3 separate regions of the Homo sapiens genome follow, and all the other regions are linked to region 1. The links come from fine-mapping of genetic effects on gene expression. A gene starts in region 1. Each other region holds a variant in brackets. All regions are shown on one strand. Distances are between the middles of the regions. Region 1 holds the start of NHERF1 (NHERF family PDZ scaffold protein 1). Region 2 overlaps FADS6 (fatty acid desaturase 6). Region 3 holds the start of CD300H (CD300H molecule (gene/pseudogene)).

Region 1 (10,564 bases):
ATATTATCATTTCAATGTGTAATCCATTTTTAACAATTGAGCTATTGTACATCCTTTTATTTGTACAATGGCTTCAAAATCTGGTGTGCATTTTGCACACACAGCACGTCTGCATGTGGACCAGCACATCTCGAGTGCCCGGGAGCCTCGCGAAGCTGGTGGCTGCTGCCCGGACAGCACAGACCTGTGCTGCCTGAGACTGCCCCAAACACACTCCTCTAAATACCCCTGGCCATTGCTGTTCCCCTGACCTTAGCACAGGGAGAGGCTGCAGCCTGTCTCGGAGAATTCAGAGCTCTCAGCACCCAGCAGTGAGTGGGACTTGAACCTGGCCAGCATTCTCTGTGTGTTCCCACACCACCCCGAGGTGACCTGGACCTCAGGGAATCTGTAACTCTTGTCCTTTTCTAGGGCCTAGGGACCTAAACATTGCCTAGGAGTCTGGGGACATGGTGAGTTGTCCTACCATGAGGGGAAGGCTTCGGTCAACAGTGAAGACCACCCTTGAGGGGGGCTCTCTGTGCAGGTTCTGGGGAGTGAGGGCGGGGGTAGATACTTGGTTACCAGATTCCAGATTGACCTATCACATCACGTGAGAAGGGATGGGGACAGGAGCCTGCCACTTATGGGCTGAGGCACTGCAAGGATGCCCTGCTAGGGACAGGAGCACCTGGAAGCCCTGGATCCTTACAGGAAGCCAGTTCAAGCAGCCTGAATTTATACCACTGTGATGGTCCAGCTGTGGCTCAGAATATGATGGGCAGAAACACCTGGCAGAGTCAGGCTTCAAGCACAGCCTACTCATGTGGCCAAATGGCTGTGCAGGCACTAGAGTCAGAGGGTTGGGTTCCAAGACACACCCCTGCGCTGTGTGGGAGGAGTCGCTAGCTCAGAGTCCTGGGACCCGCCATGGCCACCTTAACTGATCAAGCCTCAGCCTCCATAGGCAGAGAATGGGGCCAATATCTGCCTCACTGGTGGTCATGTGGATTAAATGAGACAGGCAAGGTTAGTACTTAGCACAGTGCTAGACACAAATAGTAGCTATCATGTATTGAACACTTACTGTCAACCTACAAAATAGAGAAAACAATAGCTAATTTGTCTGGGGGACAATGAAATGCATATTGGCTGGGTGTGGTGGCTCATGCCTATAATCCCAGCACTTTGGGAGACCGAGGCAGGTGGATTACCTGAGGTCAGGAGTTTGAAACCAGCCTGGCCAATGTGGTGAAACCCCATCTCTACTAAAAATACAAAAATTAGCAGGGTGTTGTGACAGGTGCCACCCAGCCTGGCCACCGTGGTGAAACTCCGTCTCTACTAAAAATACAAAAATTAGCAGGGTGTGGTGGCGGGTGTTTGTAATCCTAGCTACATGGAAGGCTGAGGCAGGACAATTGCTTGAACTTGAGAGACGGAGGTTGCAGTGAGCCGAGATCACACCACTGCACTCCAGCCTGGGCAACAGAGCAAGACTGTCTCAGGAAAAAAAAAAAAAAAAAAAAGAAAGAAAGAAAGAAAGAAAGAAAGAAATGCATGTCAACATCTTTATGTCATAGGTAGAGTGCCTAAAGGCACTGTACAAACCTGTTTCCTTCCAGGTAGGGCCACTCTATCTTAGAGCAACGAAAACAGAGGAACATTTGTTATTGGGGTCTAGAGCTCTGGTTTCTCCCTGTAAAGAGTCCTGCAGCACCAACAAGACCTCGGCTGAGCTTCTTCTTTCTTTTTTTTTTATTTTGGAGATGAGTCTCACTCTGCTGCTCGGGCTGGAGTGCAGTGGCGCGATCTCGGCTCACTGAAACCTCCACCTCCCAGGTTCAAGCCATTCTCCTGCCTCAGACTCCCGAGTAGCTGGGATTACAGGCACCTGCCACCACGCCTCGCTAATTTTTGTATTTTTAGTAGAGATGGGTTTTTACCATGTTGGCCAGGCTGGTCTTGAACTCCTGACCTCAACTCCTGACCTCAACTGATCCACCCGCCTCGGCCTCCCAAAGTGCTGGGATTACAGGCGTGAGCCACCGTGCCTGGCCTGAGTTTCTTATTAATTTCCCACCCCACTTTCCCAGGGACCATTGAGATGGGACATCTGGGAAAGGGGAGAAGGACCCCATCTAGACATATGGAGTTCCTTGAGAAGGAAGCCCCCATTCACCCCCCTCCCCCTGTTTTTTTGGTAGAGACGAGGTCTCACTATGTTGCCCAGGCTGGTCTCAAACTCCTGGGCTTAAGCGATCCTCCCGCCTCAGCCTCCCGAAGTGATGGGATTACAGGCACAAGTCACTGCGCCCGGCCAGGAAGCCCCCATCTATCTCCAAGAGAATCATCTCCAGAATTACTGAGTTAACAGGAGCTTGAAGGTAAGAACCAGGGGCTACACTGTTTTGCCAGCAAAGAAAGAGATCCCAACACACAAACAATCACATACCCTGTCCATTTCAAATCCAAACACCCAGCAGCTCAAGCTCTGTTCTGCCCTACCAGAGCTCCAACTTGGTTGGTGTAAAATGGCCCGCCCGCCCTGGGAAAGAGGTTGATGGCCCTCCAGCTAACTGTGCCCCACCACCCACCTTGCTCCCTGGGGTGCCTGCACTCTGACTCTGGGATCAGGGTCAGGGCTGGCAGGAAACACCCCAAACTAGCACTTTCATTTACAAACCTGTCATGCCACCAAATCTTCCCAATAACCCTGCAGGCAGTGCCTTTCACAGAGGTGGAGGCTGAGGGTTGCAGGGAAAAATGAACTCCCAGGATCCCAGAACCAGCACACGGCAGAGCTGGGATTCAAACACTGATCTGGCTGACCCCAAAGCCTGGACTTTTGGCTTTCTAGTTTTCAAATAGAAGCTGCTAGCAGGCAAGAAAGAAGAGTGGGTAGGTTCTATCTGGAATTCCAATCTCTGGGCGGGGCGGGATGAGCTGAATGAGGACAAAGGTCCCTGACTGTTGTTATATATTCATTCATTAATTCAAAAACTGTTTTTGAGAGCCTCCCTACCATGTGCCAAGGACAGCGCTGGGGATAGAAACACAAATAGGCCACAGTTGATGCCCTTGGGCTTACCACGTAGTGGAGAAAAAGGTCACAAACAGATGATTAAAATATTGTGTGTTTAGAGCGATAAAAGATGTAAGGACAAAGAGGAGGCGGAGGCCGAGGCTGGCAGATCACCTCAGCCCAGGAGTTCAAGACCAGCCTGGGCAACACGGTGAAACTCCATCTCTACAAAGAATTTAAAAATTAGCTGGGAATAGTGGTGCATGCCTGTAGTCCCAGCTACTAGGGAGAATGAGGTGGGAGGATCGATTGAGCCCTGGAGGTCGAGGCTGCAGCGAGGCGAGGTTGCGACACCACTCCAGCCTGGGTGGAATCTGTCTCAAAAAAAACAAAAACAAAAACAAAAACAAAAAAAGTGAAGGAAAGGAAATGCTAACTCTGCCTACTGGATTAAGGACAGGCTCCCTGGGAGGGGACAGAAGTGTCAGGGTGTGAAGGCTTAGAGGCTAGAGGGGAATTCGGACCCTGGGTGTGGTTTTGGGGGTAGGGAGGCAGTGGTGAGAACAGGCTGCCAGATGGAGAAGGGCCATGGAACAGCATATAACTCTTAAAAAAAAAAAAGAAAAAATTTAATAGAGACAGGGTCTTGTCATGTTGCCTAGGCTGGTCTCAAACTCCTGGGCTCAGGCGATCCTCCCACTTTGGCCTCCCAAAGTGCTGGGATTACAGGTGTGAGCCACCACACCTGGCCACAACGTATCATTCTTAACCCACAGTGACCATCGATCAGGCACTGACTGTGTGCCAGGCTTGGCCACAGTGGCATTTGCCCAACTAGGCAGGCTGACCCAGCGCTAGCTGCCCCATGATAGGTGTGCAATGATCACTATGAAATATGTATTCATTCCAATACCAACTGCAAAGGCTGGCTGAGCCTGGACTCAGTGCCAGGCACTGAGCTACGTGCTTTACACACAGCCTCATGCAATTCCGAGGTAGCTGCCATAACCCCCAACTTACACAAGAGGAAATGGAGGCTTACAGAGGTGAGGTAACTTGGCTTCGCACAGCCTGGCTAGTACAGCTGAGCTGGCTCGGCTCTGCCCGGCCGGCACTCTGAACCCAGACTCAAGGGTTTAGGCCTCATCCTGTGACTGGTGGTGAATGGGGGGAGGAGGGCTTTAAGCAGGGGAACAGCAGGGCGGGTCTTGCTGCTCCTCTCTCCCCACGGGGCAGGCGGGGAAGGCCATCCACAAAGCAAAGCCGGTGGGCAGAGCTGGAGAGCCACTTCCACCTCCTTAGGCCTAGACTCCCCAGCGGGGATGGCCAGTGTTACAGGCACCCCTCAGCCTCTGCCCTGAGTGGTTCTGGACACAGCTGGTCTTCCCAGCCAGAGGCCACCCAGCCAACCACTCTCTGCGCCACACTTTTCCACTGATATCATCACTTAGTAAGTGGAGGGCTAATGAAGACAAGGGAACAGCCCCACCTTGCACACAAATTCAGACTAAAACGAATTGGCAAACCTCCATTTGATGCTTTATGTAGGAAACGGGTGTGTTTTAGAAAAACGAACTCTTACAATGTCTGTTAACATTTTTTCTAATAACCACATGGGTGTCTGTATGCTCAACACACAGGATTGAGAGGAGAGGATTTTCTGCTAGAAGGACTCAATGGTGTTGACTAGGAGTCAGTTTAGAGGAGCTGGGATTCAAACGCCAGGCATGAAGGAGTGCAGTTCAGCATTTAGTAAGGGGCTCAAGTGCTTCACGTCATTTCTATAATTCTAGAGAAGGCAGGCATCACATCGCCCAATGCCTCCATCTCACAGATGGGAGAACCAGAACTCAGAAGTCCTGGGACTTGGCTGGTGATGGTGTCCCCAGGATTTGCTGGTGGCTCTCCTCTCATCTCCTGGCCTAACAAAGTACACACAAATGTAGGTGTCCCTCCAAAACATGCAGGAATCTGAGTCTGTGCTCACCCAGGAAGCTCAAAGCTGCTGCCTTTGCGCACGTGTGCTATGCCAGGCCTCCACGTTCGCCTCCCAGGCCCTCTGGCACCCAGCAGCATAACCAAAAGGGCAAAGGGAGGAGCTGAACGAGACTGCAACTTGTGGGGGGTGGGGGTGGGTGGGTATTTGTGTGGGTGCCAAAGTCCAAAAAAAAAAAAAAAAAAGAATGTCAAATCGATCGATGGACTCAGCACAAAGTTCACACTGGATTTCTGCCTGGGACTGGAGATCATCGGCCCCAACTCCCTGGCATCAACCTCCTTGCTCCGGGTGCTCAGATCCCTTCCCCCTCCCCTTGCCAATGCCAGCTTGGCAGGGGCAGGAAGTGGGAGCCTGGTGGCCCTGGCATTCCCAGCACCCAGCTCTGGCTGGACAGGGCTTCTGGTGACCTCACTTCCACCAAACCAGTTGATCCTCTAGGGCTTTGCCTTCTACCTTAATGCCGAACTGTGCCCTTTCTCTGTCCAGGAGGCTCCTCGTAGCCCCACGGACACTCCCATCAGACACTGCCACCAGGGAGAGCTGGTGGTGCAAGCTGAAGGGGTCCTGGGAGGCTCACGCCCTGCCCTACACAATGCACCACTCCACTCTCTGGGGACAGGAGGCTCAGCACAACTCCTATTTTGCCAGCTGCCCCTCTTGCAGCTGATCCAAACTGGGATCCCATGGGCAAACACCAAACATGGGCAAAAAGCAACCGGCCTGCTGGCTGTGTGGGCACCAGAGTGACCATGGCAAGGCCAGGGCAAGACCACCGGCTCACCGTGAGCTCCGCTGGCGCACACAGGGCCGTGAGCCCCAGGAGCTCTCTCTCCTCCCCATGGCCATCTTTTTCTTCTTCCAAGGTCTTTCCCCTTCCCTCCCAGATACAGTTCTAGGCGCTTACTCTTCACATTCCTGAGAATCGTAAATCCTCTGAGGTGGCAGAACCACCACTCCGAGATGCCTTGGCTCCTCCTCCCTGCCAGGCAACCCCCACACCGCCCTGAGATGGTGGGGCTTCCTCTCCCTTAGAAGTCACACAGGACTCCGGGAGGATGAAGTCCAGCAGGACTGAAGTTCAGGACACACACCGGCGGGCTGCGGAGAGGGCCTCCTCGCGCCGGGGCTCCACACAGGAGGAGTAATGCTATTCCTCTAGCTTTTGAAGTAGGAGTGGCGGGCGAAGCTGGCACCTCTGGGGCGGAGAGCCCTTTCTCCCCGGCCCATCTGCGGACTGGGGTGAACGAGGAGAGGGCACCAGGGAAGGAGCAGGATTGGGGGATTCCGAGGAACGGGAGCAGACACCCACAGACCCGAGGGAAGGGGGCTGGGTTCCCCTGCGCCGCCCTCCCAAAGGCCAGGGAACAAGAGGTGCAGGCGGCAAAGGCGCTCAAGCTCCCAGCACAGCCTGGGAAGGAGAGGAGGTCGCGGGACGCAGCCCCAGGCCTGCCTAGGATGTGTCAGGGCGCCTGGTCGGCGGGCGGAAGCGGTCTCCCCCTCGCAGCTCGAGTTTCAGAAAAACGACGGCGGGCGCGGGGCTGGACGGCCGGGGCACCTGGGTCTCTCCGGATCCTCCTCCCACTCCATGCCAGCCTGCGCGGCTTGGGCCCCGCTTACCTGCTCCGGGTGGCTCTTGTCGGCCTCGCGAGGCTCATTTTCGTTGCCAGCCCCCTGCACCTCGGCGGCGGCCGGCGGCTCGGCCTGCCCCGGCGCTTCCTGGGCGCGCAGCAGCTCCTCTCGGACCTGGACGCCGAGCTTCTGCAGCTGCTCGTCCGTCTCGGGGTCGACCACCAGCAGGCGCACGGCGTTGAGTGCGGCGCGGATGCGGCTCACCACCTGCTGGTGGGTCTCCTTCTCCACGTTTTCGCCGTTCACCTCCACCAGCCGGTCCCCCGCCAGCAGCCCCGCCTTCTCGGCCGGCGAGCCGGGCTCCACCAGCCGGATGTACTGGCCCAACTTGCCCTTCTCCCCGTGCAGGTGGAAGCCGTAGCCGTTCGGACCCTTCTCCAGGCAGCAGAGCCGGGGCAGGGGCGCCCCGGCCGCTGCGTCCGCGCTCATCTCGCCCTGCGACGGGTCAGCGGCGCGACTTGGGGTTCCGATGGGGACGGGACGGGACGGCCCAGCCCTTCTTCCCGTCCAGCGAACCGGGAGCGCAGCAGAGAAGCCCTGAGCCGCCGGACGGGCCAAGCAAGCAGGTGTCCCAGGAACCGTCGGCCGCCGCGAGCCGCGAGGAGCCGAGAGAGGACCACAGACCAATCCCCGCCCCGCGCGGCGTCTGAGCGTCCCAGAGTCCGCCCCGGCTCCTTACCCCGGGGGCGGGGCCGCGCTGAGGGTGGGGACCTCCGCGGGCCAATAGGGGGCTGCAGGCCTGGGCGCTCCGGCCGGGTGAACGGCGCCGGCCATTGGGAACGCGCGGGGCGGGGCCTGCGCTCGGCGCGGCGCCCCGCGGCGGGCGAAGACTAGCGCTCAGGAAGTGGAAGTGTTTGTTACCGAGCGGCCGGCGCTGGGGTGGCAGGGGCGGGGCTCGCCGAATTCCCGGTTCTGGGCGGGTGGGCCCGCCGGCTCCGGCCTGGTTTCCCCTACCTGTGGCGGGGAGTGAGGAAAGCCGGCCCTCGGGTAAAGGACCCTAACTTTTTTTTTTTTTTTTGAGACGGAGTCTCGCTCTGTCGCCCAGGCTGGACTGCCGTGGCGCGATCTCGGATCACTGCAACCTCCGCCTCCCGGGTTCAAGCGATTCCCCTGCCTCAGCCTCCCGAGCAGCTGGGGTTACAGGCGCGCACCACCACGCCCCGCTAATTTTTGTATTTTTAGTAGAGACGAAATTTCGCCATGTTGGCCAGGATGGTTTCAAACTCCTGACCTCAGGTGATCCGCCCTGGGATTACAGACGTGAGCCACCGCACCTGGCCAACGTTTTAACAGCCTTTAGCCAAAGCCTGGGTGCAGCTCCAGTTGAGAGGGAGCGGCTGTTGCCGGGGCAACTGCTCCCGCTCGGGGCAGCGAGGGCCGGTCAGTCTCGAGAATTAAGACGGAGGGCCTCCTCGGACCCTACAGAGTTGTTTGAATAACATTTTTCCGTTTGTGGGAACCCTAACCCTAATCCACTTTGTGCTGTCCCAGGACTCGCATAGAGGAGTGCAGGTTCTGATCCCTGCTGGGAAGGTGAGGGCTCCGCGGAGAGCCTGGGACCTCGAGGGGCAGCCCGCTGAAGACAGGCCATCTAGGGCAATAGCGTGGGCTTTGGCAGCAGCGTTTGGCTAGGGAGGTGGGGTGGGGAGAGGCAGGACAGACTCAGGTAATCAACCTCTGGGTACACGCCACAGGGAAAGGAGCCTTGGTTTTTTTTTTTTTTTTCCAACAGAAAAATGATTAGGACTGTAAAGCCTTCTAGCTCCCTCTTGCCAAAGAGAGGCTGGTCACAGAGGCGGGAGACAGTCTGTTGAGCGGGGAGCTGACCATCTGAGGACAGACACTGAGGAAGGAGGATGGAATGATTTTGGCAGTGAATGACAATTCCTTCAACAAGACCCCCCCCCCCCACTCACTTCAAAGAAACAGTGGACAGGATGTGCTTTCCAAAATACTGCAGTTTAATTCTGAAAAACTCAAATGCAAGAGGCCCAGAGCTGTCTATGGGATTGGATCTCCTGCAACCTGCCTTGGGCCCCAGAAGAGACTGGCAATGTCAGCCTCCTCCCTGCTCTGCCTGAGGGAGGCCACGGAGAACTTCCTTATCGGGCCCAAACTGGAGCCGCTGACTGCTCAGAGCAAGATTTCTGCCTTGAAAGCAAATGCAGTAGCCTCAGAAATGTGCAGCGCATACTTCTTCCTCCCCCTCTCCCCCTCCAGGCCGGCAGAGCTGCAGTAAAGATGCCTGCAGGTCATGACCTCATGTTTCCTGTCCACTTCCCATGGCAGGGATCGGAGCTTTGGGAGATATGTGACCAAGGAGGACACATGAACTTGCTACCCCTCTCTCTACCCCAGACATACCCACATGACTTTGTTTTACTCATATTGCATTGGTTTAACTCGGAAATGGGTGACCTCCCACCACCTAACCTGACTCAGTAGGAGGGGAGGTAAAGCAGTTTAGGCCCTGGTATCTGTTTGAGAAGTTAAAGGAAAGGGCATGGGTGGTCAGGGAGGAGGCAGAGCTTGGGGTCAAAGGGATACATGTCAGGGGAGGTTTGCTTAATCTTGTCTCCCACCAGCTCCAGGAGCCAGGGATTTCTCTTTTTTTTCACAACACATTCCAAACCTAGGAAAGGGATTTCTCCTTATCTGGCTCTTAACCCAGGAGGGCTAAACACTTCAGCTGCTTGAAGAAATCGCCTGTGGAGCTGCATGCCTGCCAAAGGATTGGGATAAGACACATCTAGCCTGGGCATGGTGCCTTCTGCGTGTAATCCCAGTACTTTGGGAGGCCGAGGCCGGCAGGTTGCTTGAGCTCAGGAATTCAAGACCAGCCTGGGCAACATGGCGAAACCCTGTGTCTACAAAAAATACAAAAATTAGCCAGGTGTGATGGTACACACCTATAGTCCCAGCTACTTCGGCGGCTGAGGTGGGAGGATCGCTTGAGCCCCAGGGAGTGGAGGTTGTAGTGAGCGGAGATTGCACTACTGCACCTCAGCCTGGGCGACAGAACGAGACTCCATTTCAAAAAAATAAAAACAAAACTCTTTTCCTAGTTCTGACCTGAGGTTTTTAGGTGCACAGGCAGGAAGGTAGCTAAGCCAGGGATTCAGGGGGGGGAGGGGCTCCCCCAGGATCTGAAGTCCAGAGAACAGGAGCCTGGAACCAATATTTCCAGGTGCCCCAATGTGCTTGTGTGCTGGAGAAAAGGGGCATGCCTCCAGGGGGGTGTTAGTAAGGCCAGAGATAGCCAGCTAGACCCTACTCTCTGCCCCTTGTCCTCCCCCTCCCATCTCCATATCTCTTATCTTCCCTGAGGCTTTGGTCTTCCTCACAGCACAAGGGCCCACTTATTTGGGAGATGGGGCGAAGATAAGCTCCTGGAGAGCGGGAGACAGTGAAGGCTGGGGTCACCTGAGCCTCTGTCCAGCTGAACTGAGGGTGCGATGGAGTCATTACCTGCCCTCACCCCCAAAGTGCATCTGTGTCCCCTGGGGCTGAGCTGGAGCAACACCACCTTTGTTATGCTTAGGAGGGAGGGCCGGCCCCCCAAGTCCTAGAAAGCAAAAGGGCCACTAGCTCCCAGCCTCGGTTTTTTGGGGATCCAGGCGCCTTTTTTGGTATTAAATTATGTACTATTAAAATAAAAGCTAAGTGTTTTACCCTCCCTGTGGATGCGGGGAGACCGCAGGAACTCAAGTAGGAGTTGGAGTATAGCTCCCTGCTAGGAAGCGGCTGTGCAGTGAGTCCTCCATCTTTCTCCCCATTGGCTCAGCCTCTTGGAATAAGCCAGGCCTGGGAGGGGGAAGGCTGCATCCTGTGTGCCTCCAGAGCCTCCTCTCTGCCCCCTGGGATTCACATGAAGGAGCAGCAGCTGGAGCGCTTCTTCTGGGACTCTACATAGTCTCGGATCTGGAAGCTGG
Region 2 (8,000 bases), 140 kb before region 1:
TGCTTGGCTGCAAGGCATTTATTGCACAGAGGTAACCTAGTGGTTCTCAAACTTCGGTGTGTAGCAGAATGATCTGGAGGCCCAGGCTTGCTGGAGAAGAGGACTCGGGCCACTGTGTTTTTACCAAGTTCCACAGGTGAATCTGATACCCACCAAAGTGTTACACCCACACCATAGCTATCATGTGTGCCAAATGAATGCAGGAGGCCAAGGACGCCTCCTCTGAGAAGCCTTCCTGGGCTTCTCTACTGGAGCGCTCCACCGGAAACCCAGCACGCTTGAGATACCCAGATAGCCTCAGTGCTGCATTCTGCTTGTGAATGCTGTCTTGTCCCCGTAAGCCCAGTGGCTTCATCTTTGCCTCTTTGACTCTTCAGCTCCTGGCACAGACTTGAGCTCTTGGCAATATTCTTCCATCAATATTTGCTGACGATGACCCTGCAGTTGTCTAGGGAACCAGGTTCAGGCCTGCAAGCCCCCTCGAAGCTGGGGAGGAAAGGCTTGGCTCCCGCTTCATGTCGTGACACCTGCCTGGTGGACTGCAGTGGGCTGAGGAACAGGGCCCGAGTAGTTTATTACTCAAGCCTCCGACTGACCTACGTGGGATGCGTCTTGATTTTTTCATCCCACAGGTGCCCTCCAGCTACCCTCTGGGGAGGGTCCAGTTCCAAGTGTGGGGGAAGGGGCAGACCAGTCTCCCCAGTCTGGCTGACATTGGTGAGGCAAGTGCACTGCTGGAGGAGGGTGCTGGTCTTGTCTGCCACACAGGGTGGCGGCGAGGACAGTGGGGCTCACGCCTGTAATCCCAGCACTTTGGGAGGCCGAGGTGGAAGGATCACTTGAAGTCAGGAGTTCAAGACCAGCCTTTGAAGCCATGGTTGAACTCCCAGCCCCACTGGCTGCCCTGACCTTGAGCAAGTTACTTAATTCAACATCTAAGTGTCACTTTCCTCACCTAATAAACAGGAGAAATAACACGACCTCCCTCATGAGGCCAGCATGTGGATAAAATGAAACAGTGCAGACCTTAATGGAGGGCCTGGTCCTGACACCCTCCACCAGTATGATCTTCACTTTCTTTCTCTGGAGTTAATGTGGTCAGCTGCAAGGAAAGGGTTAGCAGTTGTTTGCTTTGTCTTTTTTTTTTTTTTTTTTTTTTTTTGAGACTGAGTCTCACTCTGTTGCCCAGGCTTCAGTGCAATGATGCAGTCTCGGCTCACTGCAACCTTCACCTCCAGGGTTCAAGTGATTCTCCCGCCTCAGCCTCCCTAATAGCTGGGATTATAGGCACCCGCCACCATGTCCAGCTAATTTTTTTTTTTGTATTTTTGTAGAGACAGGGTTTCACCATGTTGGCCAGGCTGGTCTTGAACTCCTGAGCTCAGGTGAGCCACCCACCTCGGCCTCCCAAAGTGCTGGGATTACAGGCGTGAGCCACTGTACCCGGCCTTTTTTTTTTTTTGGTTTGTTTGTTTGTTTTGTTTTTGTTGTTTTTTTAACTGCAAGTTTGCAAAGCTCAACAGGGCTGTGTATATGTTGGGGCGTTGGGTGCTGTGTCATCTGGGCCTCTGCAGGGTGCAGAGGACACGTTCTTGATGCCTAGGACCTCAGAGGATGCCCCAAGACCCTTCCTGGATTTCTGACTCTCCTCCCATGTCTTGGTGCCTTCTCTCTTAGGATCCTTCCTTGTGGGATATCTGTGCTTTTCCCAAACCTTGACGCTCAGGAGACATCTTCATTGCAGAATAATGCAGCCATAGGCCCTGGGCTCCTTTTGGTGTTTGGCAAATGCTGCAGCCTCAGGCATTAACTGAGTATCATTGGCGGTCCCAGGTGCCCAGCTTTTGCTGGGATTGTCTCAGGGTTTACCAGCTCCAAGCTGGGCCATTGGATCTGGGGGAGGGGCAAACAGGTTGGAGGGGGAGGCTTCCACTCCAGGCTGTTGTTTCTCTCCTAAAGTATCCAACCTCCGAAGACCCATTTGTGTTCCACATAGGAAAGTTCTATCCCTCCTGGTAGCCTAACCCTGACCTTCTCTCCTGCCACTGATAACCTTGGTCTTACCCAGCGAGAGTACCTGCCCAGCCCTGTCCTGGGTCACCATGGGGACTGCCAGGCGTATTCTCAGGGACTGCCAATGAAGGGCACTGTACCATGCTCAGATGGCCACGGGAAGGTTGGGGGCAGTGTGGGATGGGCAGGCCCCCGTAATTTAAGCCCCGAAGCTTGGGAAAGATTAACTCCTGAAAGGACTCTCCTGCATGTCACTCACAATCCAAGATGCTCCCCTGAGTGGGAGGGAACAGGCCCTGCCAGTTCCGAAGCTCTGGTGTCTCCGCTTCAAATCCTCCATGTGAAGTCGGCTTTGTGCTGCAGGCTTGGAGCCACAGCTGCTGGACCGGAGCTCTGCCCTGGGGGAAGGGCACCTTGTAGGAGAATGTCATCGGCTTCCTTCAGGGCTCTTGTGGGGGTGGAAACAGGGCCAGGAACCCCCGCCTAAGTCGTGATCCTGGAACGTTCTCTCCTCACAGGCGTTCAGTGTGACCATTACCCTCCAGGCCGTCTCTCCAACCTTCTCTCTGCCTGTTCCCACGCAAACCTCGAGAGCTGTTGCCTAAGTTCAACTACAACTTCTTATTTTTTTAATTTTTAGTATTTATTTGGAGAGAAAACTCAGATTTGCAGTACAAAATATACTTTTGTAAAAGCTTTTTTATTTTTAAAATAATTATAGATTCACAGGCCTTGCAAAAATAGGACAGAGAGGTCTGGTGTAGCCTTCATCCAATTTCACGCAATAGTTACATTTATCTAAGTGTCATTCAATATCAAAACCAAGGAAACGGACATTGGTACTCTGCGCGCGCGCGCGCGCGCGTGTGTGTGTGTGTGTGTGTGTGTGTGTGGTGTCTCAGCTCCACCTACACCATGCTCCAGTAGATGCTGGGGACATAACTGTGAATAAGACCCCGTTCCACTTCCCCAGGGACTCAGAGTCAAGTGCAAAAAAGACACATACAAATGACATCAAAATAATAAAAAACCCTGGCTGGGCGCAGTGGCTCACGCCTGTAATCCCAGCACTTTGGGAGGCCGAGGAGGGTGGATCACGAGGTCAGGAGATAGAGACCATCCTGGCCAACATGGTGAAACCCCGTCTGTACTAAAATATGAAAAAAGGTAGCCGGGCGTGGTGGCACACGCCTGTAGTCCCAGCTACTCAGGAGGCTGAGGCAGGGGAATTGCTTGAACCCGGGAGGCGGAGGTTGTGGTGAGCTGAGATTGTGCCACTGCACTCCAGCCTGGTGAGAGAGCAAGACTCCATCTTAAAAATAATTAATAATAAATCCTGATCACACTAGCTAAGGCTTACTGGCTGCTTCCTGCATCCTTTTTGTAAATCACCTCATTTCAGAGTCGCACCTCCCTATGGGGGTTAAGCTACTGTTACCCTCACTTTGTAGATGAGAAAACACTGATCTGGGAGTTTAAGCCACTTGTGCAATGCCACGCCAGCTGGTAGGTGACTGGGGCAGGCAGAATGTGATGAGGGCATTGACCAGGGTGGAGTGAAAGCTCTGAGAGCTCAGGGTGGGAAGAGCAGGGCAGGGACATTGGACAGTGTCTGGAGATATTTTTGGCTATCAAGATGGGGGTGTGGGCCAGGCCCAGTGGTTCCCACCACCTTGGGAGGCCAAGGCAGGAGGATCGCTTGAGCCCAGGAGTTTGAGACCAGCCTGGGCAACACAGCGAGAGCCTGTCTCTACAAAACAAAACTAAAATTAGCTGGATGTGGCGGTGTGCACCTGTAGTCCAAGCTACTTGGGAGGCTGGATGCTGAGGCAGGAGGATTGCTTGAGCCTGGGAGTTCAAGCCTTCTGTGAGCCAAGATTTTATCACTATACTCCATATACTCCATACTCCAGCCTGGGCAACAGAGTAAAAGTCTGTCTCAAAAAAAAAAAAAAAAAAAGACTGGAGTGTGTGTGCGTGTGCATGCTACTGGCATCTAGTGTGTAGAGGCCAGGGACATTGCTAAATGTCGTACAGTGCACAGGACAGTCCCTGACACAAAAAGTGCCCGAGTCCCAAATGTGAATCATGCAGGGCTGAGAAACTCCAGGGACGGTTTCCAGGGGAGATGCTATCAGGACAGAGTTGGCCAAACTAAGGAGCAGGAAGGTGGCTTCAGACAGAACAAATGTATGGACAAAGGCTGTGGGAAGCAGTACAGTGCATGAGGGACCCTCAGGAATCAGGGGTCACCAGAATCCAATGGGGACCCTGGAGAGGGGAAAGGGGGCGTATGGCAGGCAGAGGACCTGGAACTTGGTCTTGTGGCCAAAGGTGGTAATCTAAGTTGGTAGTTTTCAAAACTAACTTATTTTTCAAATAGGTAATGTGTTTACATGATTCAGAATTCAAAAAGCATCGGGAGAGGTCTTTGTCCTACCCCTTTCTGCAGATGTCCCATTTCCTCCTGGAAGATGATGGCTGGAGGTTATCAGTCTCTTCTTCTATGTTCTTCTCTAATATTTTCCTCTTTTAGTTTTTTTTTTTTTTTTTTTTTTTTTAGACAGGATTTCACTGTATTGCCCAGGCTGGAGTGCAGTGGCACAATCTCGGCTCACTGCAGCCTCCACCTCGTGGGTTTCAGTGATTCTCTTACCTCAGCCTCCCAAGTAGCTGGGAGTACAGGCGTGCACCACCACGCTCTGCTAATTTTTGTATTTTTAGTAGGGGTTTCCCCATGTTGGCCAGGCTGGTCTTGAACTCTTTTTTTTTTTTTTTTTT[G/TG]AGATGGAATCTCGCTCTGTTGCCCAGGCTGGAGTGCAGTGGCGGGATCTCCGCTCACTGCAAGCTCCACCTCCCAGGTTCATGACATTCTCCTGCCTCAGCCTCCCAAGTAGCTGGGACTACAGGCGCCCGCCACCACGCCCAGCTAATTTTTTGTATTTTTAGTAGAAACGGGGTTTCACTGTGTTAGCCAGGATGGTCTCGATCTCCTGATCTCGTGATCCGCCCGCCTCGGCCTCCCAAAGTGCTGAGATTACAGGCGTGAGCCACTGCGCCTGGCTGGTCTTGAACTCTTGACCTCAAGTGATCTGCCTGCCTTGGCCACCTAAAGTGCTGGGATTACAGGCATAAGCTACCACGCCTGGCCCCTCATTTAGTTTTTAAACAAACAGTACACTACAGGATTAAGACCATAATTATGAAATTATGATGCAGTTTTGGGTTTTAACTGTGTCACTCTACTGGATTTGAGGCAGACAAGGCAGAAGATGGGACGAAGGTGTTGGCATGGGCAGGCTGAGAGATGGTAAGGACAGACGGGCAGGGATGGGGTTCAAGGAGGAGGGTGTAGGTGGTGGTTGTCTGGGTGGTATCTGTGGGGAGAAGGAAGAGGTGCAGGAGTGGTGGGCAGCAGGAATGACCAGGATGAGAAAGAGGGATTGAGGGTCGTCAGAGGGGCAGCGTTGGTCTGGCAGGAGGGCTTCCGGGCTGGATCTGCGTAGCTTCCGTTCCTCTCTCCAGACTCTTGCTGGCTCCCACAGCATGAGCAGCCCCTTCACATCTGGCTTCAGAATGCTGGGGGCTTCTGGGGCTCCATGGACCTCAGTAGTAGGTTTTCTAGGTAAAATACAAAAAGTCCAGTGATATGATTTTGATGTTTGTCCCACCTAAATCTCAGGATGAAATGTAATATTTATTTATTTATTTTTTTTTTTTGTGGTTTTCTTAAAAAAATGCCTTTGAGTTGCAGATCAGGTGAGTTGGTTTTGGAAGTACTGGTAGTTCTGTTGGTGTGAGAGAGACTTGTCTACAGGCAGATAAACCCAAGTTTGCCAACAAAGGCAGTAACCCCAGTGGCCAGCTGCTGCTGCTACTGCACAGTGAGGAGGAGGTGGGGCCTGGTGGGAGGTGACTGGATCATGGAGGGGTTTCTCATGAATGGTTTGGCAGTATCCCCTTGGTGTTGTCTTGGTGAGAGTGACGGTGAGTTCTCAAAAGATCTGGTCATTTAGGCTGGGCGCAGTGGCTCACGCTGTATTCCCAGCATTTTGGGAGGCCGAGGCGGGTGGATAACTTGAGTTCAGGAGTTCGAGACCAGTCTGGCCAACGTGGCGAAACTCCGTCTCTACTAAAAATATAAAAAGTTAGCTGGGTGTGGTGGCGTGTGACTATAATCCCAGCTACTCAGGAGGCTGAGGCAGGAGAATCGCTTGAACCCGGGAGGTGGAGGTTGCAGTGAGCCGAGATCGCACCATTGCACTCCAGCCTGGGCAAGAGAGCAAGACTCGGAAAAAAAAAGAAAAAGGATCTGGTCATTGAAAAGTGTGTGGCACCCCTATCCCCGTCTCGCTGCTCCTGCTTTCATCATGTCACTGCCTGCTCCCTCTTCCCCTTCCCTGTGGACTTCTGCCACGGTTGTCACGATTGTGATCTGCCATGATTGCAAGCGTCCTGAGGCCTCCCTACCAAGCTTCCTGTGCAGCCTGCAGAACGCTGAGCCCGTGAAACCTCTATTCTTTACAAACTACCCAGCCTCAGGTATTTCTTTAGCAATGCAAGAATGGCCTAACACACATTGATGAATTTGAATTTCAGACAACCAATATTTTTGTATAAGTATATCCCAAATATTCCACGTATTTTTTGTTTATCTGAAATTCAGAATTAAGAGGGCATCCTGTATTTTCATTTGCTACACCTGTCAGTCTTGCTCAGGGAGCGTACAAGTCTCCAGGTGCAAGTCCTCAGGGAACTCTTCGGGCTGGCTCTGGGGCAGGATCTGTGTGAATGCAGCCATGTTTTAGACACCTTTGGGATGAGAGAGGGACCCTGGTGAGGGCCACAGCAAGAATAGTCCTCGAGAGCACCTTATCCTGATGGGAGTGGGTCCCGTACAGTCGGCAATGAGCCCATCAAATGGGGCTGATGGCATTCTCTTCCTTTTCCCAGGGACAAGGCCCTGGGAACCCCACAGGCCTAGCATGGTGCTGGGCACCACTGGGGGTCCGACAATGCTTATGTGAACAAACAACTGCATGAAAGAACAAATGGGGCTGGGCGCAGTGGCTCACACCTGTGTTCCTAGCACTTTGGGAGGCCGAGGTGGGTGGATCACATGAAGCCAGGAGTTCGAGACTAGCCTGGCCAACATGGTGAAACCCTGTCTCTACTAAAAATACAAAAATTAGCCAGGCATGGTGGTGGGCATCTGTAATCCCAGCTACTCGGGAGGCTGGGGCAGGAGAACCCAGGAGGCGGAGGTTGCAATGAACCAAGAACCCATGAGGCAGAGGTTCACCACTGCACTCAAGCCTGGGCAACAGAGCGAGACTCCATCTCAAAACAGAATAAAAATAAAATAAATAATCTTTTTCAGCAGGACCATCCATTTTCCAACTAACTCAGCAGCATGTGGTCATCCGCCACCGCCCTCAGGAAGTGTGCGAGTGAAGGGCGCTGAGCCTGGTGCAGTGAGCCCTCTGCGGGGGTGTTCCGCTGTCCTTTCCTGGCTTGCAGTGACTGGTATTGGGAAACTTTTCACGTCGTTCCAGAAACAGGCAGCATCTTCAATAAAATTAGCCACATCTTCTGTCCTAGATAAAATATCGGAAGAGGCTTACATCTGCATACCATTTGCATGTATCTGCTTAAGAAACACCTTAGCGTGGCTTTTGCATTCCAGACTGACTACTCTCCTAGGAGTCAGAGCGCACGTGCTGCTGCTCAGAGCGGCTTCCGAGAATCCCACTGGGGATCCATACTGCAGAAGAGTCACCTCTAGGGAGAAGCTCTTGGCCCCCACCAGGGCACCGCCCCCACCTTGTGGACTGGTCAGGGGATGGTGTCCCTGCTCTCTCAGACCACTCCTGTAGCCCCTCCTGGCTGCTGCTCCGGGCTGAGAGTGCTCAGTGTTATTAACGAGCAGATGCTTCTAAGAGAAACACACACAAAATCATTGCATTGGATGCCGGGGTCATCACCTGCAG
Region 3 (10,564 bases), 180 kb after region 1:
CTTTCCAGCTCCAGTCATCTTATTTAAAAGTGACCTGGCAGGGGTGTTGGGATGGGTATGCAGGATTTAAATATACAGAGTGCATGGTACGTAGAAGATCAAAAGAGGAAAGTTTCCCAGAGGGATGCCACCACCTTCAAATGCCTTTGCTCAACTCCTGGGACTGAGCAGGGTGAATATTTTTATTCCTATTTCACAGATGAGGAGACTGATGCTAAGAGACTTTTGCTGATTTGCCTAAAGTCATATAACTAGTGAACAGCAGACCTTAAAATCTGAGCCAGGGCTCCCAGCTTATGGCCAGAACCTTCCTCACTGTGCTACATGGCCCACATCATCAGAGTCAGGTAGAGACCCTCTCTGAGCCGGGCTCCCTATAGCACCCCAGCCCCCATGTTGGGAAGACCCTCCCCACACCCTGCTCCCTAGAGAGCCCTGTATTTGTAACAAGATCCCAAAGAGGCATCCATTGCCCAGAGCCGGTCAGGAGGCTGCCCTCTTGGTGACGTCTCCCTTGAGTGCCAGTGGGGAGGGAAGAAAGTGGGCAGTGGGGTCCACCATCCTTGGGCACTTGCCCATTCTCACCATGATGCACAAGATACTGAGAACTACTCCCCAAATGGATTGACGTCGGGTAGTAGAGGTGAGAGAAGAGAGGCCCAATGCCTTAATACATTCCTGATCCCCTCCCCTGGAAAATATGGAAGGATCGGAGCTCTCACCCTCCAATTCAGCTCACAAGGCTGGGGCCGAGCTCTGTCTGCGTCTCCGGGTGCCCAGATTGGTCCTGCCTTTGTGGAGGCTACAGCCTCACCTGGAAATGGATGCCATGCAACAGGACAATGACAGCACAGGGACATGAGATTAAATACAGAAATAAGCATTGCAGGTAACAGGAACCCCAGAGGGAGGGGTCTGGAAGGCCTGGAGCAGGCAGGGATGCCTTCCAGGAGAGGTGTGGTCTGAGCTCATCCTGGGAGAGTGAGAAGGGAGGATGACGGTTTTCGAGGAAGCAGAAAGACAAGCACAGCCCCGAAAGGCAGAGAGAAATGTGTGGGCTACTCACACTGTCCTACACATCACATGCCCCGAGTTTGCCCTAAGAACGCACCCCTCACTGATGAGATCTTAACTTTCTGGAAGCCCCAAGAGCTGTCCCTCAAGGGCAGCGATGGTGGGGGTCTCAGTGTGGTGCAGTGCCAGGCAGGGCCCCGGGCTCCCCGCCCTCCTGTGCCTCATGGCCAGTGTTCATTATTCTCAGTCCTCCCCTAGCTCTGCCCTCCTGGAGCGGACAGCATTTTCCAGGACAGGTTTCAGAGACAGAAGGACAAGGGCCTGCTGGGGAAGGGACAGCGGCTCCAGATGCTGGCCTTGACATGGAAAAAGCCTGGATGTCCCAGATGTGGGTCATCTCTTCAAGGAATTTGTCATCTCCTGGGGGACTCCAGGGCCCAGAGTACATCTGCTTCAAAGGTGGGTTCCCTGTGGCATTGCCATGTCCTTTGCATTTGGCAAACTGTCTGGTCCTAGCTAAAAAAATGAAACACACACAGGCTGTTTCTAAGCAGACCCTGCAGCCTCTCCCTGCCCCGACCTTGGATGAGCGAGAAGCACGGAGTCGGTGTGCTGCGGGGCACCCTTCCAGCCCGGTTAGGGAACCTCCAGTAGTGGGTTCTGTGGTTGTGGTCAGTGACTTGCCGCCTTGTCCTGTAAGAGGACTGTGCTTCTCCTTCCCACTGACTTCAGGCTTGACCCTATGACGATGAACGGTGAGCAGGAGCCGCATGTGCGCCTTCTGAGCAGAGGCTCAGAGAGCCACCCGGTGCCTTCCCTCTCCTCTAGCGGACTGGGCTCCGCAGCCTGGTGCCCAAGCAATGCTGACTCACCGCTTGCGTATAGACGAGCGAGAAACAAGCTTCTGTGGTTACAGCATGCTGGGATTAGGAGTTTTGCTATGGCAATGTGAGCCAGAAAGAGCTGACTAATACAACCCTGTGCACCCGGTGGTTTGTCCAGACAAGGATGGCGAGAATGTTTTCTGGAAAAGTCTGCAGCTGTGCGTCATCTCCTTCACAGACTCAGATCCCTTCTTCCCAAGAAAGGCACGTTGAGCAGCCCTTGACGCAGAGTCAGGGAGGGCCAGGCAAGCCTTTCCTTAGCGCCCAGAGCTAGGCACAGAGGGCGGGGCTCGCAACCGGCTCTGCAGGCTGCAAGGGGAGACATCTTTATCACTCCCAGCTCCTGCTTCCCCTCCACACACATGCACGCACCAACCCACACACCACACATATACACCACATGTACACACACACACACCCATACACCTCCCCACGCCCACACATGCACACACCACCCCACACACCACACACATACGCCACATGTAGACACACACCACCCACACCCCCCACACATGCACACACATACACACACCACACACATACACCACATGTACACACACACCACCCACACCCTCCACGCCCACACATGCACACACATACATACACTACACACATCACCCCACATACCACACACATACACCACACACCACCCCACATACCACACACGTACACCACACATGGACACGCACACACCACATACACTCCCACACATGCACACATATACACACTACACACACCACCCAACACACCACACACACGTACACACATACACACTACACACATCTCATCTCATACACACCACTCACATCACACACACCACACACACATTACACACACCCTACCCCACATACTGTACATATACACCACATGTACACACATCTCACACCACACACGTGCACACACATACACACTACACACACACCACCTGTGCACACACACCACACACACATGCAAACACACACACTACATGCACCCCACCCCACACATCACACACATACACCACATGTACACACATACACACACTACACACATCCCACCCACACCACACACACCACTCACACCACACACACGACCCCAAACACCACACACATACACACACACTACACACATCTCACACACACCACTCACACCACACATACACACACACTACACACACACCATCCCACACACCATGCACATACATCACATGTACCTACATACACACATACCACACATACTACACACACTACCCACACCACACACACTACACATATATCCCTCATACCACACCCATATACACACATGTGAACACACACAGAAATATGAGGACTCCACATGCAGCAAAAAATGAACAAGCAGGAAACACATTTACTGAAACACCAAGGAGGAGACATTTGATAACAGAATGCCAGGAATTTGGAGTCTCCTAGTTCCAGAAATCTAAGTCCCTGAGTGAGGCCTTCTGAAGCTGTGCTTGCATTTATAAATCCTCCACAGCCATTCTGTGTATATCAGGCACACTTCTGGCCAGGTTCCCCCGAGTTAGCTCTTGATATATTGAAACTCTTATATGTGGTCATCTTGGGCGACAGGAAGAGCCACACAGGTCAAAAGCAAGGCTTATAGATGGTCCACCAAGCTCTGCGTGGTGCCAGGTCTGTGGAAACAGTCAGGCACGTGGCCAAGACAGGGACCTCTGGGGTCTGCTGAGGTCAGAGCAAGAGTGAGGGGTTAAGAGGTCAGAGCCTCTGAGGTTGCACCCAGCCTATCTGTACCACCAAGGATCAGAGATAGACCAGCGGGCATCGTGGGTGTGCCCCTACCCTGTGCAGTCTCGCAGGCCCGGCTCTTAGAAGGGTCCCACGTTTCATGCTTGGCTGTCACCATCTTGAAATTCTTAATAATTTTGGAAACCTAGGTTTGATTTTACACTGGGCTCTGCAAATAGCCAGTCTCATCCATCCAGTGAAGGCTGAGCCATACCCTGGGGCGGCTCATGCTGGCCACAGAAAACTGGCCATTCACAGAGGGGAGGACCTGCCCAGAAAATCCAGATGGCAGCTGGCCCAGTCTCACTGGTCCTGGGCCATGCTGTGATTTGGAGAAGGGCAGGCCTGTCAGCTGTGGGTAATGGGAGGGACATTGTCTTTACTGGGAACAGAAAGAGGAACAGCAAATG[C/T]AAACATGTTTTATTAGGAAGAACTTCAGCAAGTTCTCAAAATTGTTTCACCTGACCACATAGTGCCCCATGGCCCCAGCTTCCTCCATACTCTCACCAGCTCTGAGAACCAAACCCAGAAGAGGCCAGAGAAGGAAACGAGAGATGTGAGAAGGAAAAAGAGCCTCAGACCCTGCTGCCACAAGGGACTTCCATGCTGGTGAGATGACCCAGAGGGCTGGGGCTGCCATGCTGCCTTCAGCTCTGCTCCTTCTCTGTGTCCCAGATGAGCAGGGCAGGTCCTGGGTGCAGGGAGGTCTGCTCTGGCGGGTCAGGGTGAGGCAGGCATGAGAAAAGGCTGGCGAGGGGCAAGAGGAAGAAATGATATCAAGAAAGAGGGAGTGAGGTGTGCATAGAAGCTTCTCAAATCTCCTTATCGGGATAGGGTGGGGATTAAACGGTAAACTGCTTCCCACACAGTAAGCCCTAAGTAGATTTGGCAACTTTAATCATTATTACCGTCATTATTAAGATCAGGAATGCCACCACGATCCATCAGAGAGAAGGGGGAATAGGGGACAGAAAACCAGTACTTACTAGGCTAATCACTGTAATACATATCTTGTTTCCCACTATCTCATTTAATTCTTATTGCAATCCTGATGAAAACAAGAGACCGAAGCTCGCTCTTAGAGGTGCAAATAATTTAGATTAAACAGTTTATAAAAGGCACAGTCAAGGTCCAAACCTAAATACTTTTATTTCCAAGATCATTGCTCCTTCTCTAATTCAATGTCAATGTCTGCTGCGCCTCCTTGTAAAGCTTCACTTACATATCTGGAGGCATATGCTGCATCCCCACGTGGGAACCCTGGGTGTCCCCACAGGTCTGGGCTGGCCCCAGGGCTGCTACTTAATGGGCCCCCAGAAGGGTGAGACAGCTGGGAACCTGTGGTCAGCCCTGGTCCGAGAGTTTCCGTAAATGATGGTGGAGGGAGAAAGTCAGTTTCTTTGCAAGGCTGGGTAGGCGGGAAGCTCCGTAAAAGATGGTGGGGGTGGAGGTGGAGGAGGCTGCCCATGTTGGCTCAGAGTCAGGGTCTGGACTGAATATCCAAGGAGAGGGAGGCTCTGTGGTGGGATTCAGTGTGTGCCCCACAATGTTTTTGCTCCTTGTGGAATTAGCCCCAAATCATTAAGAGAGAAGTTTAAGGACCTGAAAGAGCAGGCTAACAGCGCCCCCAGAGCCTGAGCTGAGAGCAGCAGCGATTTCAGGAGAGGACTGGGTGTGCCCACCCCTTCCTTGCTCCTAAGCCTGTGCCTGGCAGGCAGTTAGCTCCCTGGGAAAGCTCGTGGACCTCAACACTGTGGACATTTGGGGCTGCGTTATTCTGTGTGTTGGGGGCTGTCCTGTGCATTGTAAGATGTTTAGAAGCATCCCTGGCCTCTACCCACCAGATGCCAGCAGCAATTCCCCACCCTAAGTTGGGACAACCAAAAATATCTGTAGTCATTACCAAATGTTCTCCCGCCCGCCCCCCTGCCCCCCCGCCCCCTCCCCGCCCCCCTGCCCCCCAGGTGAGAATCACTGCTTCAGAGAGGCAGACAGCTTTCTAATGCAGAATAGGTCAGTGGGCCACTCGAGCCTGCTTTCTGGGAAATAAAGTGAGAAAACGTGAGATAAGAAAATGAAGATGCAAAAGATAAAGTTTTCCTGTTTTTTTTTTGAGACAGAGTCTCACTCTGTCGCCCAGGCTGGAGTGCAGTGGTGCGATCTCGGCTCACTGCAACCTCCACCTCCTGGGTTCAAGTGATTCTCCTCCCTCAGCCTCCTGAGTAGCTGGATTACAGGCACCCACCACCACGCCCGGCTAATTTTTTGTATTTTCGATAGGGACAGGGTTTCATCGTGTTGGTTAGGCTGGTCTCAAACTCCTGACCTCAGGTGATCCACCTGCCTCGGCCTCCCAAAGTGCTGGGATTATCGGCATGAGCCACCACACCTGGCCAGATTTTTCTTTTAATTCACAATAAAAATATAGCAAAGCCTCTCCATCAGTGGATGGCAATATATTACCTAGATGGATGGGTGGGTAGATGAAAGATGGATGGATGGATAGATAGTAGATAGATAGATAGATAGATAGATAGATAGATAGATAGATAGTTGATAGGTAGACAGATTACATCCACAATTCCTTTTCAGGAGCTTGGTATTTTGCCAAAACCATTTCTCAATAGCCGTTTTGTCCTGAGTTAACCACCTCCCTGTCAAGAGCAGATGAGACAGCAGCTGTTTAGGACTGGTGAGGCCCCCGAGGCAGGAAGCAGAGAGTTGATGGGGCTGGGTCCCAATCATTTGGACCCGGAGCCTGCAGAGTGGGTGGAGGAATGAGAGAGGGGACTCGAAGAGGGAGAGTAATGTCGAAATATTGGAGGGGGCAGAGGACCTGGAGAAGAGGCCCAGGACATGCCAAGGCGGGTGGGTGCTGCAGAGAATTGGGGGTGGGAAGGAAGCTCTGATGGGTGTCCCTGTGGAGCGGAGCCCTGCAGATGTTAGGCAATGGCGAGTGTTGCTGCAGGATTCTGTCCCGGGGGAAAATTCCAGGCGTAAATGTCCTTGAATCACAAGAACAACTCCTTTCTACATGGCCCCTTGATATCCCCATGGGCAGCCCCCATATTCTCTGTGACCCAGACCTGGGAGCAGGAGGCCTCATCTATATGGGCAGGGATGGCAAGTATGAGGCCCACAGATGATTTGGGAAAGGGGCAGAACCAGAAGCCCCAGGCTTCCTCCTTGCCCTCCATACTGGGCTGCTTCTGGTTTTTCCTGGTTCTCAATATTATTTCCTTTCCTATTTCATCCATCCGTCCATCCATCCATCCATCCATCCATCCATCCATCCATCTATCTCTCCAGCCATCCATTTATTCAGAGTGTACTTAGTGGCTTCATTCAATCATTGGTGTTCGATGAGGACAGGTGTTTCTTCTCAGGACTGACACTTCTGGGGGACCCAGAACCTGTCTGAGGCCACCGAGGTCAAGCCTCTCCCCCTGATATTATAAGATGGCTGAGCACACCCAGGCTGGCATGGCCTCTGGAGTCTCAGGATCCCACACCGGGCATCTCCTTGGGTCTCCCCCTGCAAATAGCCCATAGCTCCCTGGTTCCCGACTCCTCCCTCCTCCAGCCTCAGGCAACACTGGGCGTGCAGAGGACCTGACACTCAAGGTTCCACTGGTCCAGACTCTTCCAGGTGAAGACGGGGAAACGGACTTGTGTTTTCCAGGCTGTCTGACTGTGAGTGGCCCCAGCACCGTGATGGGCGCCGTGGGGGAATCCCTGAGTGTTCAGTGTCGGTATGAAGAGAAATACAAGACGTTTAACAAATACTGGTGCAGACAACCATGCTTGCCAATTTGGCATGAAATGGTGGAGACCGGAGGGTCTGAGGGAGTGGTGAGGAGTGACCAAGTGATCATCACGGACCATCCTGGAGACCTCACCTTCACCGTGACCTTGGAGAACCTCACGGCAGACGATGCAGGAAAATACCGATGTGGGATTGCAACAATACTGCAGGAAGATGGCCTGTCTGGTTTCCTGCCCGATCCCTTCTTCCAGGTTCAAGTGCTGGTCTCATCGGGTAAGAGCCTCTTTTCTCAGGCATCTGAGGCCATCTCTGCAGAGCAGCCACAGAAATTTTGGCCCAGGAGAGAAGAACTGGGCCTAGTGTGGTGCATCAGAGACTCAGGACAGAGTATGTTGTGTGAATGTGTGTGGGAAATACATGTGTGTTTGAATGAGTGGGACAGTGTAAGTGTGTTTCAGTGTGTGACTGTGAGTTGTGTGCAAACATGTGAGAGTGAGTGCAGGTGTGAAGGTGTGTGTGAAAGCAGGTGTGTGTGAATGTGTGAGAGAGCAGGTGTGTGTGAGTGTGTGTGAGTGTGTGAGGGAGCAAGTGTGTGTGAGTGTGAGTGTGTGAGAGCAGGTGTGAGTGAGTGTGGGAGTGTGTGTGAGAGCAGGTGTGTGAGTGTGTGAGTGTGTGTGAGAGCAAGTGTGTGAGTGTGTGCAAGAGCTGGTGTGTGGGTGTGTGTGAGAGCAGGTGTGTGTGAGTGTGTGTGAGAGCAGGTGTGTGTGTGAGAGCAGGTGTGTGAGTGTGCATGTGAGAGTGTGTGTGAGAGCAGGCGTGTGTGAGTGAGTGGGCGTGTGAGTGTATTTGTGAAGTTGCGTGAGTGCACATGTGAGAGTGTGTGTGCAGGTGTGAGAGTGTGTGTGAGACAGAGAGTGTGTGCTGGAGGGTAGTGGTGGTGTGTGGATACACTGGCAAGGATGGGGGTTTTGGAACCTAAGCCTAACCTTCGGCATGTTGATTTTCAGCGAGATGGGGGACACCAACATGGGAGAAGGTGGTCATCCTCTGGTCTGGGTTTATAAAATGCCCACCCGGCCCCAGAGCAGGGCATCCATTGGGATGGGGTTGGGGGGATGCTCTGTTACTCCAGTCAGGCTTTGGTCTGCCTATTGGAAGACGATGGTCCTAGAACATCTGTCCAGCTGCCTCCTTGAGCGTCCTCTGCTTTATGAAGTCAGAACCATGCAGGTACCAGGTACTCAGCTGGGAAGAGTCAGGCGTAGGGCACTGAACCTCTGTTCTTTATCCTCAGCCTCCAGTACTGAGAACTCTGTGAAGACACCTGCATCTCCCACCAGGCCCAGCCAATGCCAAGGGTAAAATGCACGTGTCCCAGTGTCTTTTGCCATGTGTGCAGCTTCTTTCCTAGGGTGGGGCTTCCTAGACACAGGTTTCCTTGATTATTCACCCACTCAACATTTATTTATTTATTTATTTTTTGAGACAGAGTCTAGCTCTATCGCCGAGGCTGGACTGCAGTGGCACGATCTCGGCTCACTGCAAACTCCGCCTCCCGGGTTCACGCCATTCTCCTGCCTCAGCCTCCTGAGTAGCTGGGACTACAGGCGCCCGCCACTAGGCCCGGCTAATTTTTTTTTTTGTATTTTTAGTAGAGACGGGGGTTTCACCATGTTAGCCAGGATGGTCTCGATCTCCTGACCTCGTGATCTGCCCGCCTCGGCCTCCCAAAGTGCTGGGATTACAGGTGTGAGCCACCGTGCTCGGCCAACAGGTGTTTATTTGTTATGCGCCAGAAACTGATGGAGATTCTAGAGATGCAACAGTGAACAAAGGGGCAAGATTGTGCTCTTGAGGAAGTTGCAAATAGGTAGATTCAGGCAATGGCCAGATGGATAGATAGATAGACAGACAGACAGGTGGACAGACAGATAGATGGATAGATAGATAGATAGATAGATAGATAGATAGGTGGATAGATAGATAAACAGACAGATGATAGATATGATATGAAAGATGATAGAGATGGCTGGCTGGCTGACTGGAAAGACAGATGGAGATGATAGCTGGCAGAGAGAGATATGTAATAGAGACAGAGAGACGATAGATCAAGGAAATATGTCAACGAATGATAATTACTGTGGAGGAAAATAAAGCAGGTGTAAAGAGATAGGGTGCCAGAGTGTGTGGGAAGCTGGTGGGGCATGATTTGGGCTATCAAGGAAATACAAGATGTTCCACAGAAACAAAGAACAAAGGGACTGTCTTAGTTTGGGTTTCCCCCAAATCAGGTCCTGAGACAAGGACTTAGGAGCAATTTGTTTATTGAGAGGTAATCTCAAGAAGTACATTGAGAGAGCAGAAAGTGAGACCAGGAAAGGGGAAGGGCGGTGAAATGTGCTGTAATGAAGGGGTTATCCCCGTAGTAACTGGAGTCACTGGAGATTAACCCCTCTGGGCACCCTATGAGAGACTGTGTAGAACGTTCCTCAGAACTGGAGACAGAGTCTTCCAGGCAGCAGGCACTCCTGGGGGCATGAATTCTGTGGCCCATCTGGCCTGCTCTGCACAGGAAAATGTGTGCACTCTTGTAGATAACCTCAGGCAGAGATGGGGAGCTTGAGCTGGGAAATCCTTGGTGGGGCCAAGACTGCCTGCAGCTGCCAGGAGCTCAAGTGGGCAAAGGTGATATGGGGCAGGGCGCCAACAGGGTTTGTTACAGGGACTCGTCTTAGAGAGGATCAGGGAGGGCATCAGACAAGCCCTGCAGGTAGAGGGCTGGGAAGGTGGAGAGATGGCACAGCGGCCCATTTTGGGGAGAGAATGCAGCATCTGAGGAGTTGGAATGGGAGCAGTGTAGTGGGACCCACGGAGCGAGACGACTGGCCATGGGCTGAGCTTGGAGAGTTCACTCCTTGGGGTTGAGATTGTTAAGCCGTTTAAGCAAAAGAGCTGTTCTTGTGATCATATTTAATTTGAGTGAAGATGGTTGTAAAGGAGTATTTCATCCTTGAGGTTGTTCCCAGCAAGAGCTGAGTTCCTGCGGGCATCAGTGGCTGAGGGATCTGTTCAGGAAGTTGTTTCTGGGAGCCAGTTCCTGCCTGGGTTAACATATCTCTCTTCTTCTCTATCCCTCACCTCCGGCATCTGTT

The links.
Region 2: its variant is fine-mapped to the expression of NHERF1 in whole blood (INTERVAL, PIP 0.96).
Region 3: its variant is fine-mapped to the expression of NHERF1 in whole blood (TOPMed, PIP above 0.99).

The regions. Positions count from the first base shown.
Region 1 is chr17:74,745,344-74,755,907 of GRCh38, reverse strand. It overlaps NHERF1 (NHERF family PDZ scaffold protein 1), which reads right to left and starts at 7,280. Exons shown (of 6, transcript NM_004252.5): 1 at 6,621-7,280. The coding sequence starts at 7,061. It overlaps RAB37 (RAB37, member RAS oncogene family), which reads right to left. Exons shown (of 9, transcript NM_001006638.3): 9 at 8,573-10,564. The coding sequence ends at 10,497. It overlaps SLC9A3R1-AS1 (SLC9A3R1 antisense RNA 1), which reads left to right and starts at 6,041. Exons shown (of 3, transcript NR_187307.1): 1 at 6,041-6,845; 2 at 6,981-7,335; 3 at 8,365-10,308. It overlaps MIR3615 (microRNA 3615), which reads right to left and starts at 7,295; the gene lies at 7,209-7,295. RefSeq lists enhancers at 4,184-4,725, 6,217-6,842, 8,131-8,726 and a silencer at 7,047-7,736.
Region 2 is chr17:74,883,033-74,891,032 of GRCh38, reverse strand. The region is part of intron 2 of FADS6 (fatty acid desaturase 6); the gene reads left to right. Among named protein-coding and RNA genes, the nearest start is that of FADS6, 6.6 kb to the left of the region's middle. The variant G/TG (reference allele first, on the strand shown) is at 4,795.
Region 3 is chr17:74,561,040-74,571,603 of GRCh38, reverse strand. It overlaps CD300H (CD300H molecule (gene/pseudogene)), which reads left to right and starts at 4,095. Exons shown (of 4, transcript NM_001405511.1): 1 at 4,095-4,255; 2 at 7,329-7,685; 3 at 8,707-8,770. The coding sequence starts at 7,361. RefSeq lists enhancers at 1,288-2,017, 2,018-2,748. The variant C/T (reference allele first, on the strand shown) is at 4,057.